Homo sapiens: one gene and its partner. The protein of the gene in region 1 purifies or fractionates together with the protein of each later gene. This does not show direct contact. Each region holds a gene or a part of one and is shown on either strand. Other genes may lie near its edges.

Evidence for each region.
Region 2: the proteins of ALG12 (region 1) and NUP35 purify together in Homo sapiens (affinity purification with mass spectrometry; one large-scale study listed by BioGRID and IntAct). This does not show direct contact.

Annotation. Positions count from the first base shown.
Region 1 is NC_000022.11:49,908,124-49,911,940, reverse strand, and holds part of ALG12 (dol-P-Man:Man(7)GlcNAc(2)-PP-Dol alpha-1,6-mannosyltransferase), read left to right. Parts: intron 1-1,333; coding exon 1,334-1,507; intron 1,508-1,852; coding exon 1,853-2,047; intron 2,048-2,593; coding exon 2,594-2,697; intron 2,698-3,817. UniProt on the Homo sapiens protein: Mannosyltransferase that operates in the biosynthetic pathway of dolichol-linked oligosaccharides, the glycan precursors employed in protein asparagine (N)-glycosylation.
Region 2 is NC_000002.12:183,155,288-183,158,973, forward strand, and holds part of NUP35 (nucleoporin NUP35), read left to right. Parts: intron 1-2,156; coding exon 2,157-2,226; intron 2,227-2,995; coding exon 2,996-3,124; intron 3,125-3,686. UniProt on the Homo sapiens protein: Functions as a component of the nuclear pore complex (NPC).

The DNA of each region.
Region 1 (3,817 bases):
GGGTTGAGATTGTTGGGCATTTGGGAAGATGGAAAACCAAGAGAAGAGACGCAGGGGATGGACCTGATGGGGAAAAGGGGAAGCGGGGCTTTGCTGGGGTCTGTGAATTGTTTAAAAGCCCGGGGGAAATTCCAGCACCAAAAATACAGCAGCTGGAGCCAGACCCACTTGTGAGTATCAGTGAAAAATGTCCTATTAAGACATTCAGACTGGGCATGGTGGCTCACGCCTGTAATCCCAGCACTTTGGGAGGCCGAGGCGGGGGGATCACCTGAGGTCAGGAGTTTGAGACCATCCTGGCCAACATGGGAAACCTTGTCTCTACTAAAAATACAAAAATTAGCCGGGCGTGTTGGCATGCGCCTATAATCCCAGCTACTCCGGAGGCTGAGGTAGGAGAATTGCTTGAACCCGGAAGGCAGAGGTTGCAGTGAGCCGAGATTATGCCACTGCACTCCAGCCTGAGCAACAGAGGGAAACTCTGTCCTTAAAAAGAAAAAAAAAAAGACATTTGCAGTCCGAATCCAGCAATCAGTGAAAAGAAAATGCCTGGTATGCACATGGGGTATTCTGGGAACAGCAGGTCCAGCCCTCAGACATCCGTGGCCCCCTTGGCAGTGCCTGGGTATCTCTGCCCATTGGCCCCCACAGCTGCCTGGACCCAGTTGCTTCTCACATGGCTTCGAAGTTCCTCTGGCCTTCTGGAAAGGTAGCAAGAGCCACCCAGAAGTTCATTTTTCTTCCTGTTTTCAGTCTCTTGCCAGCGGCTGACAGGCCGGTCCACGGTGAGGATGTGTGGTCGGCTGGGTACTGTCCTGGGCACACCTGCCCCCTCACCACCTCCTCATCAGACCACCAGCCCAGAGGTGGCTCCTGCTGTCAAATGGGGAGAGGGGTCCTGACCCCCTTCCTGCCTGGGAGCCTGTGTTCCTGCCACATCCCACCTCCTCATGGCTGCTGGTTAGAGCAAGGTCTGAGCCCGGCCTTTGCAAACATTTCCCCTGGAGATGCCACAGCCCGGTGGGGTCTCTGGTTTAGTGTAGGGCTCAGCTCGTGGCACCCCCAAGTTGTGTGTCCTCCCTCATGCTTCAGAGAGCAGCCCCCGCAAGGGTCCTCAGTTCCCGACAGGAGCGCAGGGGGCCTGGGTCCAGTCGTCTGTTTTCAACATGGAGACGATGCCCTCAAGGCTGCTTTGCCTGACGTAGCCGTCAGCTGGCATTGCAGCAGCATAGAAAACTCCATATAGAAAGATCTGTGTAGAAGGACCCACGTAGGGGGCCCCACTGGATACTCCTCCACTGCAGGCTCAGGTGCTGTCACTGTCTTTGTTTAGTTAGAGGAGTGCTTGGACTCGGCGTGATTTTTGGACTCTGGACGTTACAAAAGGAAGTGAGACGGCACTTCGGGGCCATGGTGGCCACCATGTTCTGCTGGGTGACGGCCATGCAGTTCCACCTGATGTTCTACTGCACGCGGACACTGCCCAATGTGCTGGCCCTGCCTGTAGGTACGTAGCTGCCGGCCGGGCCTGCACACCCATGGTGCCGGGCAGGGGCTCCCCTGAGTCGGGCTGTGCAGCTGATGGCAGTGCCTCCCCCGTAATGGCCATTCCCCACTGGGTTCCTCAGGATGGTCTGTGACCTGAAACCAGGCTCTTTGTTTTCCATGCTGGGTTGGGACACACTTCCTGGCCAACAGCATAGGTGCGGGGAGCGGCTCTGAGCAGTTTCTTTTCTGGGATATTTGTGTGGCTTTTATAATAGGAAAAGGAATCACCCTTCACTTCCCCGGGTGTTTTCTGGGCCGGGTGGGCCCTGTGTCTTGACGAGCACCCTCCCGCACTGTCTTGCAGTCCTGCTGGCCCTCGCGGCCTGGCTGCGGCACGAGTGGGCCCGCTTCATCTGGCTGTCAGCCTTCGCCATCATCGTGTTCAGGGTGGAGCTGTGCCTGTTCCTGGGCCTCCTGCTGCTGCTGGCCTTGGGCAACCGAAAGGTTTCTGTAGTCAGAGCCCTTCGCCACGCCGTCCCGGCAGGGATCCTCTGTTTAGGTAAGTCAGTCACTGTGGGATGCTTCTAACTGGATTTTGTTTTGCCTTGTTTTACAAAGGTCAAGAGAAATTTGGGAGGTTTTCATCCCCATGAAATAAAATGACCCTAAATTTAGCAGTGTTGAAAACATTTCAATCCTAAGCCCCCTGCCCGGGGATCTCCAGGGGGACCCACCGTGCGCCTTAGGAGCCCCTGTTCACTGGTCTGTCCCTTGTCCTTGGGCTGGGGGAGGCCACAAGAGTGGAGGGCGGCTTGTCCCTGCGCCAGGCGGTGGTTCTGGGCAGTGGTGTCCTCGACACAGTTGGTGTCTTTTTTCTTTTTTTGTTTTAGAGATAGTCTTGCTCTGTCACCCAGGATGGAGTGCAGTGGCATGATCATGGCCCACTGCAACCTTGAACTCCTAGGCTCCAGCAATCTTCCCACCCTGCCCAACCTCTTTTATATGAAAGCAGCTTGTAGTTTCTGTAGTGATGGGGGCTGCATTGTGGCGGGATGTTTACTGATGGCTGTGTTTGCGACTAAGAAACTCTATTTTATTTTGTCAGGACTGACGGTTGCTGTGGACTCTTATTTTTGGCGGCAGCTCACTTGGCCGGAAGGAAAGGTGCTTTGGTACAACACTGTCCTGAACAAAAGCTCCAACTGGGGGGTATCCTTCAGTGTCCGTGCAGGAGGGCGATGGGTGGGACCTGCAGCCACATCTCCTGGGCCTCCATGGGCAGTGGAAGCAGCTGCTTCTCCCTTCTCTGCAGCGTGGCTGCAGGGTCAGGATGGAGCCCCTCCCTCCCACTTGCTCCTGGGAAATGCTGGCCATGGGAGGTGAGGTCCTGGCTGCCCTCTCTCAGCCAGGAAACAGCCTGAGGGCTGGAAACAGCCCTGCCCCAGATTACCCCAGCCTCTCCTCTGCTCCTCGGACAATCTGCTTTTTTTTTTTTTTTTTTGAGACTGAGTCTCGCTCTGTCGCCCAGGCTGGAGTACAGTGGTATGATCTTGGCTCACTGCAACCTCCACCTCCCTGGTTCAAGCAATTCTCCTGCCTCAGCCTCATGAGTAGCTGGGACTATAGGCGCACGCCACCACACCTGGCTAATTTTTGTATTTTTAGTAGAGGTGGGGTTTTACCATGTTGGTCAGGCTGATCTTGAACTCTTGAACTCAGGTGATCCACCTGCCTTGGCCTCCCAAAGTGCTGGGATTACAGGTGTGAGCCACCACGCCCGGCCCGGACAATCTGCATTTAAAAAGTGCTTTCTTAGGAATTATGTCAAACATACACGCATAGATGGAACAGCATAACGAATCCCAACATGTGTGTCACCCGTGACCGTCTGTTTTTTGTTTTTTGGTTTTTTTTTTTTTTTTTTTTGAGACAGAGTCTCACTCTGTCGCCAGGTTGGAGTACAGTGGCATGATCTCGGCTCACTGCAACCTCCAACTCCCTGGTTCAAGTGATTCTCCTGCCTCAGCCTCCTGAGTAGCTGGGATTACAGGCACATGCCACCATGCCCAGCTAATTTTTGTATTTGTAGTAGAGACAGGGTTTCACCATGTTGGCCAGGATGGTCTCGATCTCTTTACCTCGTGATCTACCCACCTTGGCCTCCCGAAGTGCTGGGATTACAGACATGAGCCACTGCGCCCGGCCGACCATCTGTTTTTAACAGTGAAGAAAAGGGTACAGAGACCGAACGTCCTGTGGCCCTTGCTGCCTTGGTCCTGCCTGGAGGGGGCCCGACGCCCAAGTGGTATGTGTGCACCCGAGCTGTGGC
Region 2 (3,686 bases), on another chromosome or scaffold:
AATTAAAAATTCAAAAGGTATGTAAGAATGTACAATGAAGTTTTCCCTTTTGCTTTTGTCCCAAGCTAGTTTTCCTCCTCTTTAAGGCAGTGATTGCCATCTGTTTTTTGTGTATGTTTCCAGAGAGATTTTATGTGTTATTGATTTCTATTTGGGTAAAAAGCGGGTCATTGCATTCCGTTGTTCTCTAGAAAGTCCATACTCAGTCCTATATCCATAGCAATTGGGCTGGTGTGTTTTTTTTCTTCTTCTTCTTTTACATTTACATTTTTATAGTCTCTCATAAAATGGCTTTTTTTTTTTTTTGAGACAATCTCTCTGTTATCTAGGCTGGAGTGCAGTGGCATGATCATAGCTCACTGCAGCCTCCAATTCCTGGCCTCAAGCAATCCTTCTACCTCAGCCTCATGAGTAGTTGGGATAACAGGCATGAGCCAGCTTGGCTGCATGTTTTTGAAAATAGGTACCCACTCTTAAATCTGTTTTTCAGGCTCAGTAGTAGTGGTTTAACTTTTAAGATTTCCAGTAATTAGATAAATTACTTGAAGCACTCCTAGTATTTTTTCGTATTTCAGACATTAACTCTCCCAGCTGTTTATTTTTTTACTTTCGTGTTTTAATAACCCTCTATGACTTTAATTTCAAGAACTGAAGCATTCTCCTTTAAGGGATAAAGTATTTTATTTTGATCATTTATGGGGAAGTACCTCTAAAGGATGCATTATATATGTTCTTTCTTTGGTAGTTTAACTTTTTCCTACTGACTTAGGGTTATGAAATATTCATTGTTTTGGGTGATTCTGCTATAGAGTACTAGAATGTAAGTTTCTACTCAAAGTGGTCCAAGAGTTTTAGAATTATGTTTTATTTCTTAAGTACTTCCCTCACTTGCAGCCATTCTTTCTTCTTTTCATTTTTGTTTGATCTCTGCCCTGTAGGCACCCAACCTATTTGTTGTTTTTCTTTGTGGTTAGAAATTTCATGTCCAGATTTTATACAAATGAATTTTCAGTTCTGATTGCAGTGAATATTTTACTCATATAGATTTTATTTAATTAATTAATTTATTTTGAGATGAGGTCTTACTCTGTCACCCGGCTGGAGTGCAGTGGCACGATCTTGGCGCATTGCAACCTTTCCTTCCCAGGTTCAAGCGATACTTCTGCCTCAGCCGCCTGAGTAGCTGGGATTACAGGTGCCCGCCACCATGCCCAGCTGATTTTTTGTATTTTTAGTAGAGGCGGGGTTTCACCAGGTTGGCCAGGCTGGTCTCGAACTCCTGACCTCAAGTGATCCACCCACCTCGGCCTCCCAAAGTGCTGGTTGGTATTACAGGTGTGAGCCATCGTGCCCAGCCTCACATAGATTTTTAATGTGTTTGGTTTCTGATTTATTTTTGAGACTCGAATTTTTTTTTTTCTTTAGGGTTCTAATTCAGTCTTCAGATAACTGAAGTTAGATAGCCATTTCTATGCGATTGGTAGTGGTTATTGTTTTCAAATTGAAAACAGCTTTATTGTTAAGACTATAAAAGAATAATATGTCATTGTAAAATATCCAAACCATACAGAACTTTATAAAGAAGAAAGTAAAAATTACTTAGAATTTTCTCATGCAGAGATATGGCTAATCAAATTTTGGTAACTGTCCTTTTAAGTGATTCTATACCATAAATATTTTGATGCTGAATTTTCTCTTTGTTATGATACTAAATTTCAGAATTTTTAAGTGATGCTCAATGTATAATGATTCGTTTATAATTTAAAATTCTTTATCTTTTCATAACCGTAGTATACCTAAATATATTACATATTAACATACACATATTGAAATAAATTATATATAGAACTGCAACTTTATAGTTTTTTTTCTAAGACCTGGATAATGGCAACGAGAGTAGCATTTTTAGAGATTTCAGAGGTAGAATCTGAGGATGGAGAAGAATGGCAGGATAAGACTAACTTTAAGGTATTTGCTTTTGAGTGACTAGTCACTGACAGAATTAGCCCATATCGGGGAAAACAGGATGATCAGCACTCTCCTGTTAACGTTCTAGACAGTTGGGGGCCATTTATCTTGAAACATTATCTTGTAGTAATTTGCATTCACATTGATAGTAGAAGCTGACGTTTTCTTTGGACAACTCTTTTTTTCAGGTTTCCTCAAGCATCTGCTTCCTACATATTACTACAATTTGCACAGTATGGGAATATCTTAAAACATGTGGTAAGGCTTAATTTTTTTCAGTTCAGAGTTTTGACTAAAGAGGGATAAGTTGTGAATTGAGAGAAACTGCTTCTGAATTTTGTGGGTTTTTTTTAAACTTAAATTTTTTTTTGAGTTTTGATATAATACATCCTTTGAAGTCTGGAAGGCTGGAAGTTGCCTAATTTTTGATAAAAAGAGATATAGTGAGAAGATATGGAGAATTGAGAGTTTGAAAATCCACCTCCTCTCACCTCCTTTCTTAAACAGTTTACAGTCTTAAAAAAGATAGATTATGCCAAGTATTATATTACTGTTTTCCAATTTGAGCTGCTTTTATTGGGGATAAAAGAAGTAGGAGGCAGTTCCTGAGCTTTTAGAGTTTTTAGAGCTTTATAGCTCTAAAATTTAAAAAATTATCTTACCTTGTGCTACAAGTTATAAGTAACAAATCCTTTTTTGTTGCTAGAGATTGACTTAACTCCTATACAAAATCAAATTGAGTAGTTTTAAATAACTTTATGGCAAGTGTTGCTTTGATCTCTTTACAATAAACATATTTTGAGAAGTATCTTACTTTCAGAGAATATGTACATGTTGATTGTAGAGAATTGAGAGATTGTTGAAGCTGTTCTAAATACGATTTTTGTTGAACTTTACAGCTTTTTACAAGGCATCAAATACGGAATGGAAGTAAATTTATCTTACCATGTTCCTATTTTCTAGTAGAATTCATTAGATGTAGATTTTATATATTTTCTATTTTAAGAGACAGTTTTATTCTTTGCAGATGTCTAATACAGGAAATTGGATGCATATTCGTTATCAATCTAAACTGCAGGCTCGGAAAGCCTTAAGCAAAGATGGGAGGATTTTTGGAGAATCCATCATGATTGGTGTAAAACCATGTATTGACAAAGTAAGTTATTGGTGATGTAGGCAAAGTAGCTTAATCTATATGAAGAGCACAAGACCAAGGATTGAAATTGGTCGTTGTGTCACTTGGTTTCACTGTGTCTGTTTTTCTTAGTTTGTAAAATGTGATGATGTTTATAGTACTCTTTGTGGTAAGCCGAAGGTATTTAATCATAGAGTTTAGAATTTAGAGGTAATCTGTCCTCACCTCTTCATTTTTCAGATAAAGAAACTGAGAGGGCTTAAGTAACTTGTCCAGAGTTGTTAAAGGTGAGGCCTAGATTTTAGGTCTCTTGACTACTAATCCATTCTCTTTCTTGTGCAAAGCGATACCAGATTCTTTAAAGTACTTAAATGGAATGGTACTATTTCAGAATGAATTAGTTCATATTAACATTAACTGATAGTTAACTTTTAAATGTCAAAGGTTTTCGTTTCAAAATATTTCTGTTTAAAACTATTTTAAAATTATTCTATATATACTCATTAAATAGTACAGAGTACAATTTAAACTGTTCTTTGTGGCTTGTTAAATCATTGTGAACATTCTTTAAGTATATGTGAAC